Linked DNA regions of Homo sapiens: region 2 is linked to region 1. Evidence: fine-mapped expression QTL. A gene starts in region 1. The other region holds a variant in brackets. All regions are shown on one strand. Distances are between the middles of the regions.

What was found. PIP is the estimated chance that this variant, and not a neighbour inherited with it, causes the effect.
Region 2: its variant is fine-mapped to the expression of PCBP2 in B cells (Fairfax 2012, PIP 0.95). The same link has a PIP of 0.9 or more in NK cells, monocytes and monocytes after interferon gamma.

Annotation. Positions count from the first base shown.
Region 1 is chr12:53,449,991-53,454,379 of GRCh38, forward strand. PCBP2 (poly(rC) binding protein 2) reads left to right here and starts at 2,112. Exons shown (of 15, transcript NM_031989.5): 1 at 2,112-2,386. RefSeq lists an enhancer at 1,844-1,943 and silencers at 2,124-2,223, 2,444-2,573, 2,594-2,843.
Region 2 is chr12:53,477,150-53,481,538 of GRCh38, forward strand. PCBP2 (poly(rC) binding protein 2) reads left to right here. Exons shown (of 15, transcript NM_031989.5): 15 at 2,257-4,013. The coding sequence ends at 2,293. MAP3K12 (mitogen-activated protein kinase kinase kinase 12) reads right to left here. Exons shown (of 14, transcript NM_001193511.2): 14 at 2,520-4,131. The coding sequence ends at 4,033. Among named protein-coding and RNA genes, the nearest start is that of PCBP2-OT1, 15 kb to the left of the region's middle. The variant C/T (reference allele first, on the strand shown) is at 2,433.

The DNA of each region.
Region 1 (4,389 bases):
ACTGTACTCCAGCCGAGGCAACAGAGTGAGACTCCGTCTCAAAAAAAAAAGAAAAAAAAAGAAACCCAGGATCCAAGCAAAAGCCACACATTATATTTGGTTGTTATTGCCTTAAGCATTTTTAAATTCCTGCTTTTGTTTTATTTACTAACTAAGAGATGGGTCTTGCTCTGTCACCCAGGCTGGAGTGCAGTGGTGCCATCATAACTCACTGCAGCCTTGAATTCCTCGGCTCAAGTGATCCTCTCGCCTTAGCCTCTTGAGTAGCTGGGACTACAGATGCATACTACCATGTTCAACTAATTTTTTTTTTTTTTTTTTGAGACGGTGTTTTGTTCTTGTTGCCCACGCTGGAGTGCAGTGGCGCAGTCTTGGCTTACCGTAAACTCCGCCTCCTGGGCTCAAGTGATTTTTCTGCCTCAGCCTCCCGAGTAGCTGGGATTACAGGCATGCGCCACCACGCCTGGCTAATTTTGCATTTTTAGTAGAGGTGGGGTTTCTCCATGTTGGTCAGGCTGGTCTTGAGCTCCTGACCTCAAGTAATCCGTCCGCCTCGGCCTCCCAAATTACTGGGATTACAGGTGTGAGCCACTGCACCTGGCCAATTTTTTTCTTTTTTTTTTTTCCATTGCTTTTTTGACAAGACCAGCTAGCTGTCTTGTGGAATGTTGTGGGTTTGCAAAATATCTCCTTGTGTTGTATTAAATTTCCTATAAATTGCAAATCAGATCTAATGACTTGATTAGATTAAGATTAAGCACTTTTGGCAAGAATATTTAATAGATGATGTGGTGTACTTGTTGCATTTTTCCAAGGACCACACGGTGCAAAGTTGTCCTACTATGAGTGATGCAGTTTGATCATTTATGTACTTGGGTAAGGTGGTAACTGCTAGATCTCTCCATTTGAAGTTGCTTTTAAAAAATTTGTTATTTTTGCTACTCGGGAGGCTGAGGCAGGAGAATCGCTTGAACCCAGGAGGCTGAGGTTGTGGTGGGCCGAGATTATGCCATTGGACTCCAGCCTGGGCAACAAGAGCAAAACTCCGTCTCAAAAAAAAATTTGTTATTTTTGAGACAGGCTACAGTGCAGTGGCCGTCATCATGGCTCACTGTAGCCTGGACCACTAGGGCTTAAGTGATCCATCCACCTCAGCCTCCTAAATAGCTAGGACCACAGGCATGTGCCACCACGCCAGCTAATATTTGTATTTTTAGTAGAGATGGTATCTTAAACTCCTGAGCTCAAGCGATCTGCCTGCCTCAGCCTCCCAAAGTGTTGGAATTATAGACGTGAGCCACTACCCCTGGCCCATTTGAAGTTACTTAAAAAAAAAATTACATATATATATATATATATATATATATATATATATATATATATATTTGCAAATCTGTGTGGTGATATTTGATATTTGGTGTCATGATAGTATCCCGTTCCCTAACAACCTTTCTCAAAATTTTAATGATTGATACACTTGCCTGAATCAATTATTTCATTCTGGGTTGCAAAATGGTGACTTTTCAACTCTCATTCCTTTTATTTCTTTCATTCCTTCTAGATTTATTACATGGAACTCTTTAAAAAAGAGCTTTCCCTTATCAATTACAGATGAACTATATACAGTTCTTCCTAAAAGGAAAGTTAAATGCTTAATTCTTTCCTTTTAAGAGTAAGGAGTTTATACAATGGTCACCTCTAACGTGGCAAGTTAGTTTTTTTCCTTTTCTTTTTTGAGTATCCCTGTAGATTACTATCTTCATCCTTTCTCTTTCCACCCATCCCTTTTTCCTCCTCTCCACTTCTTGATGCATGGCGACTGCTCCCTCTCCGCACTAACATCTGAACTTTCCAGCCAGTCCACTAGGGGCCACTGGTTTCCTTTCTGCCCCCACGCTCCCTCTCTATCGCAATTCGTCGCTTGCTAGCAGCCGTTGTCTCGCTGGTGCCTACGCTGTCAAAGGAGCCGCTCTAGGCTTTTGGGAGGCCGTCTGCATTGCGTGGGGAAGGCTTGGACGACGCAATCGCCTCGCCGGCCCCCGGGGTGGTTAGCGCTTCCGGGGTCGAAGGGTGCGCGGGGTTGAAAGCAGGCCGCTCCGCCCCGTCCCCCTCCCAGACCAGCAGAGGCAGCAGCCGGAGCAGCCGCAGCCTGCGCCCTCTCCCGCCCGCCCGCCCTCCGCCCGCCCGCCCGCCCTCCGCCGCCCTCCACCCGCCCCGGGGTCTCTTTCCCCCTTCCTCCTCCTCCTCCTCCACCCCCCCTTCCTCCTCCGCCCGCCCGCGGGGCCCCCCTCGCCTTCCCGCCCGCCCCTATTGTTCCGCCCCCGGCCTCCCGCCCTTCCCCTTCCCGCCCGCTCCCCTTTTCCCCTCAGTCGCCTCGCGCCTGCAGGTAAGCCTAAAAATTTCCCTTGCGCCCCCGGCTATGGCTACAATTTCCACTTTTGTCTTCTTCTTAGCCGGCTCGGGTCCTAGTCACGAGCCGCGGTCTCGCGTAGTCCCGCGTGAGCGCCTACCACCTCACTGTGCCAGGCCGGTCATTCACGCGAGGCCCTGGCTCTGGCGCGGCCTAGTAGGCCTCGCGCAAGGCCTATTCCCCCCTCCCCCCGCCTTTTCCCGGTGGCGGCTGCGCAGGAGTCAGGGAGGGCGCGCGCGCGGTAGGGGGGGCGGCGGTGGATTTGTTGGTTGTGGGGGGTTGGGGGAGGCGATGGCCGGCTTGCTGGCCGGGCGGGTGAGCGCGGCTCCCCGCGGGGGTCAGGCGCTGGCGCAGCCACACGGGGAGGCGCTATTAGTCCGGCCCCTCCCCCTGTATCGCAGCGCCCCCCCCCGACCGAACCGTTTATTTTTTCCCCCCTCTTTCTAGTCGAGGGAAGGGGGGGCTTTTTTTCTTAAGTGGAAAATGCTTGGATAACCGAGGGGAGAGGGGGCTGCGGAGTTAAAGAAAGGGTAGACGGGCTCCCAGTTGCCGAGTTAATCAGGACGTTTCTCGGGGTAACGAATTTTTAAATTACAAAATGCCTGCCGATGTAATCCCAGACCGAGCTATTTATGGAAGGGGTATTGGACAGCAGTGTTAGCAGCTGGATTGCTGGAATGGGGTACCTTTATCTTGACCTAGTCAGGAGGGAAATTCGACAAATTTCTTGGATTACTTGGTTTGGAGTTAGAAATGCATCTTTGTACTTTACCTCAAGAAATGGCTTCAAATAGGTTTCCTGTTTTGTTTTTTTTTTTTTTGCCTTTTCGAAGTTGCGTTATTGTGATATTTGTAAAGGGCTTCCTATTACATCTGCAAGAGGGTAAGGAATTAAACTACCAGGTCTTTACCACATCTTATTAAAAAAAGAAAGTCATTCTTACAGACCTAACGCTTCTTCCCCCACCAAGCACTATTTTTCCATGAGTGAAAAGTGTTGAATTCTGGGATTTTGCCAGCAATTAATTGTATTCTGAAAATGGGGAAATGATGTGCTTTGGGGATGCACTTATATAATCACTTACATTCTTGGAGTAGCCAGAGGACAGTTTGCCATATACAGAATGGTGTGACAGACACTTAAGCACCTAAGATATTTAGGGTATGGGCTTTGTGTTAGAGGAAAGTTAACACAGTGGCTGGTTTTGTGAAGGAGGAAATCTAGCTGTGGGAGGAGAGAGATGACATGTTGAGTTTTAAAAGGATGGATACTTAAAATGTCATTGGGGACATTCTACAACTTGGGAGAGGTCCTTTCTAAAGCTGTTACGATTAGGTGCTAAAGGAGGTATTGAAGGCAAAGGCATATCCAAAAAAACAAATTTTCTTTCTACACATAACTAGTTACTCTAAAGCAGAAATGTTAGGAACAATGTTAGGAATTGTTTCATAGGTGGGAAAAGGGCCATCTTGTATAGGAAAGGTGCATTTGCTGCTGTTCTTAAAAACAAAAAATTTTAGCAATGCCAGTTTTATTTTGATTGTTTTCTTTGGAAGGAAATTTAAGATTTAATAGACTTGAAATAAAAACTGGATGGTAAACACAAAAGCAAGGAAAACATCTCAAATCTGAGTAACAAGTTGGGTTGGAAGGAGGAATAGGAGAAAAAGACTCAAGTGTACTTAATGTATCGAGTCATTTTCTAAAGGGGAATATGGAACCCCAGCCTGCGTGGAAGGCATCTCAGATAATGCCTTTTCAGTGAGGGTGTTGATCTAAATCTTTTAGAAATCATTTGGTGTTAGCCATCAACGGTTGAAATTTGTAATGTGGGATACATCTCAATTTCCTTATCTACAAATTGCTACTACAAAGAAAATTTACATGTGTTCTCTCTAGTTTTCAACTTAAACTGCTCCCCAGCAGGGAAACAAAAGGTCATTTGCCCTCGCTGTAGTTGGAGATTTGCACTCATGAT
Region 2 (4,389 bases), 27 kb after region 1:
TTGATACACATTCAGAACATTTCTTTCAGAGCTCTGGTGGGGCCAGAGTGCTACCACCAATTTTTATGAACTTAAATTTTCAGGTCCTAGATCTAATGGTATCTAGCAGTTCCTTTCTTAGACCTTCAGTTCTTACTGAACCCTTTAATCCAGGGCTATTGTTTACCTTTCCTTAGATCATTGTGTTTTGAAATTGGCACGAATCTACCCCCCTTTTAAGAACTAAATATCCCCTGCCGGGCACGGTGGCTCACGCCTGTAATCCCAGCACTTTGGGAGGCCGAGGCGGGTGGATCACGAGGTCAGGAGATCAAGACCATCCTGGCTAACACAGTGAAACCCCGACTCTACTAAAAACATAAAAAAATTAGCTGGGCATGGTGGTGGGCGCCTGTAGTCCCAGCAACTCGGGAGGCTGAGGCAGGAGAATGGCGTGAACCTGGGAGGCGGAGCTTGCAGTGAGCCGAGACCGCGCCACTGTACTCCAGCCTGGGTGACAAAGCAAGACTCTGTCTCAAAAAAAAAAAAAAAAAAAAAAAAAAAAACCCTAAATATTCCCTTAATACTGAGGTGGAGAAACCATTTCTGACTAAAAGTAAATAGTTTGTAGTCGAAGGACTTTGCAGTTTTTTGGCCCTTGCTTTTCTACCCAGCTTTTGGCTTTGCATTGTTGTGGAAGGGATACAGATGGTGAATTACCAATCATGTTTTCATGACCACATATCACAAATATTTTATGCTAATCAGTTTAAAATCTTATGAAATAACTTATCTTATGAACTGAAATGAAGTCTTATACATTTGGTTCTATTCAAAATGAGGGCAAAGTCTTGCTGCCTACCTACCTACCAGTGAAGCATACTGAGTACTTAAATACTTTTCCCTGAAAGCCCTAAATTGGATTCCAGGACCTCAAATGACTATCTCTTTGAAACAGAAAGGCATTGTAGCCAGGTATGTTTAGATGGAGGATATGGCTTGACAAGATCTAGGAGCTTGTAGAGTGAGCTACAGAGTTGAAACAAATTATTTTGTCTGCTACTTTTAAGTCCTGAAAACTTTTTAAAGAACTTTTTAAGGCCGGGTGTGGTGGCTCATGCCTAATCCTAGCACTTTGGGAGGCCAAGACAAGTGGATCACCTGAGGTCAGAAGTTTGAGACCAGCCTGGCCAACATGGTGAAACTCTGTCTCTACTGAAAATACAAAAATTAGCTGGGCATGGTGACAGCTGCCTGGAATTGCAGCTACTCAGGAGGCTGAGGCAGGAGAATCGCTAGAACACGGGAGGCAGGGGTTGCAGTGAGTTGAGATTGCGCCATTGCACTCCAGCCTGGGTGAAACTCAGTCTCAAAAAAATAAATAAATAAATAAGGCCAGGCGCGGTGGCTCATGCCTGTAATCCCAGCACATTGGGAGGCAGAGGCAGGCAGATCACCTGAGGTCAGGAGTTTAAGACCTGCCTGGGAAACCTGTTGAAGCCCCGTCTCTACTAATAATAGAAAAAGTAGCTGGGAGTGGTGGTGGCTGCCAGTAATCCCAGCTATCAGGTGGAGGCTGAGGCAAGAGAATTGCTTGAGCCAGGGAGGCACAAGTTGCAGTGAGGCAAGATCACATCACTGTACTCTAGCCTGGGTGACAGAGCTAGACTCTGTCTCAATAAATAAGTAAATCTGAGTATAATTCTTGACCCATAGTTACTCTTTTTACATCTCTTTTTAACATTTTTTTTTTTACCTTTAAAACGGTATTACCTCATAATACCCTACACATTGATAGAACTCCAGGGCTTTAAAGTAAAGGCCTTGAGTTGTCTCAGCATTAAACCCTTGAGACTACTCTCAGATGACTCTTTCTTTCCTAAACTGGTATTCTGTCAGCAGTTTGGGAGGAGCCAAAGTGAGCTCAGCAATAAAGAAACATTGCTTCTGTGTATTGTGAGCACTCTTTAGAGGGGCCTGTTTCCAGAAAGTACACTCCTTGGTTAGCCCACCATGGAGGTGGAACTAAAAGAGAACATAGTTTGAGGGACATTGGATAACAAGGGCTGTTTCCCTTGGTTCTGAGGTAATAGACCTCCACATGCTTGAATTGCAAGGATTAAAGGATCATGGTACTGGTAAATTTAAGAAACCTTAAAATGTCTCCCTTGGTACTCCAGCACTGGTTATTTACTCTTCACATTTCATGAACCAGGTAGAGATGAGGTGCAGCTGAGCACTGGGGAAACTAACTGAGTTCTTGTTTCTGTGTTACAGGCTTTCCTCGGAGACGGGTGGCATGGGGAGCAGCTAGAACAATGCAGATTCATCCATAATCCCTTTCTGCTGTTCACCACCACCCATGATCCATCTGTGTAGTTTCTGAACAGTCAGCGATTCCAGGTTTTAAATAGTTTGTAAATTTTCAGTTTCTACACACTTTATCATCCACT[C/T]GTGATTTTTTAATTAAAGCGTTTTAATTCCTTTCTCTGTTCAGCTGTTGATGCTGAGATCCATATTTAGTTTTATAAGCTTCTCCCTGGTTTTTTTTTTTTGGCTCATGAATTTTTCTGTTTGTCATGGAAATGTAAGAGTGGAATATTAATACATTTCAGTTTAGTTCTGTAATGTCAGGAATTTTTCAAAAAAATTAAAAGATGGACTGGAGCTTTTTCTTTGTGAATAGAAACTGGATGCCACAGTGATTCATGTGGGTTTTATTCCTCTTGTCTTGCTGTTATTTTTGTACCTTTTATCCCTCAAAGGACCCTTCTTGGGTTTTGAATGGAAGCCTTTATTCCGGTTAAGATGTTTTCTTCTATTTTACCACTTCCATCTTTTTTTGTGGCCCTCGATCCTATTTTTCCCTGACTCCATGCTTGGTTGGCCCTTATAAAACTTGTGCCCAAAAGATTGAGGATTAGACTTTCCGAGGACTTACCTGTCCTAGGGGAGTAGGCAAGCACTTCCACTAGGGAGGGGGTGGGGGAAAGGAATGACACATGACATACATGGCATACACATTAAGCAGTTGATCATATGTCTGACTGGGTTCCAGTTTCTTGGGAATGTTGGTCCCCTTGTTCAGGCTTGCATATTTTAAACTAAAAATTTCAGTCTATTGTTTTTAGTAACTTCATTTATAGTCCTCCATAACAAGTTAGAAGGATGTATCTGCTACCATTTATTCCTATAATTTTAGAAAGTTGGGGCTTGACATTATACTCATTTAGTGAGAGTAGATGCAAAAAAGTGGAGGGGCAGGAGAACTTCTCCAGACACCTCAGATAAAGTCCGGAGCCCAAGGCTTTATCTTAACCATGTATGGTACCCCATTCATTCATCAAGAAAACCCTCAACAGCTGGGCCTGCATGGAGTGTTATATTTCAAGGTTTTTCACAGGGGTTACAGTAGGACAGTCCCCACCCCAATCAGGCACCAGGATAAAAGCAGGGACTTAAACAGCACCCCGGTTCTTCAGCCTGAGCCATCACATGCTATCAGTCTCCTAACCTCCCCCTGGGCCTTAAGACAGGGCTTGGGCAGAGAAGATAAATGGTGGGACAAAAAAATGAGTTACATTGCCACCTGAGAAACCTCAGAGGGGAGGACCCAGCCTTAGCCTCCCTCCTCCCAAGTGCAAAATGTGTAAACAGAGTAAACGGAACAGAAAAGTGCAGTCTAAGTGGTTTTCTCTCCTGCCCCTCCCACCGCCCCTCCCCCCACCCCCTATTATTTGGGGATAAAGAATATAAAGACAACCCTGGCTTTTCTATTGCCTTGTTGCTTGCTGAATATAAGGAATGGGGTGGGGCAGGAAGGGGCTTGCCCTTAGCCACAGCTCTACGGCTGTGCCTCATTCATTTCCACAGCTGCCAGTGTCCCTAGAGTTTATCAGGTGAATTGGTCAGGGGATCAGTCTCCCTCGAGCCTGACTTACGGCTGGGACAGCCCCATCTTTCTGTTGATTATGTGGCGCATATATATATATATATGTATATATATATAATTTATATAAATATTTCTCTATGTACAAGGAATACGAGTGGCTTTCATGGAGGGAGGGAAGCTGGGGGCCGCAAGGCATCAACGCTGTTGGAGTTGTCCAATTCAGTGCTGTCACAGTCTGAGTCCTCAGAATTGGGAGGGCCCTGTGAGAAAGAGTAGAAATGGAGTGAGATTCCTTGGGGTTCTTTGCTGGGGTCATTTTAATAGCCAGTGGCTTACTGATTTGTTTTTTAAGACAGAGTCTCACTCTCGCCCAGGCTGGAGTGCAGTAGCACAATCTCGGCTCACTGCAACCTCTGCCTCCCAGGTTCAAGCAATTCTTCTGCCTCAGCCTTCTGAGTAGCTGGGACTACAGGCATGCACCACCACGCCCAGCTAATTTTTGTACTTTTAATAGAGAT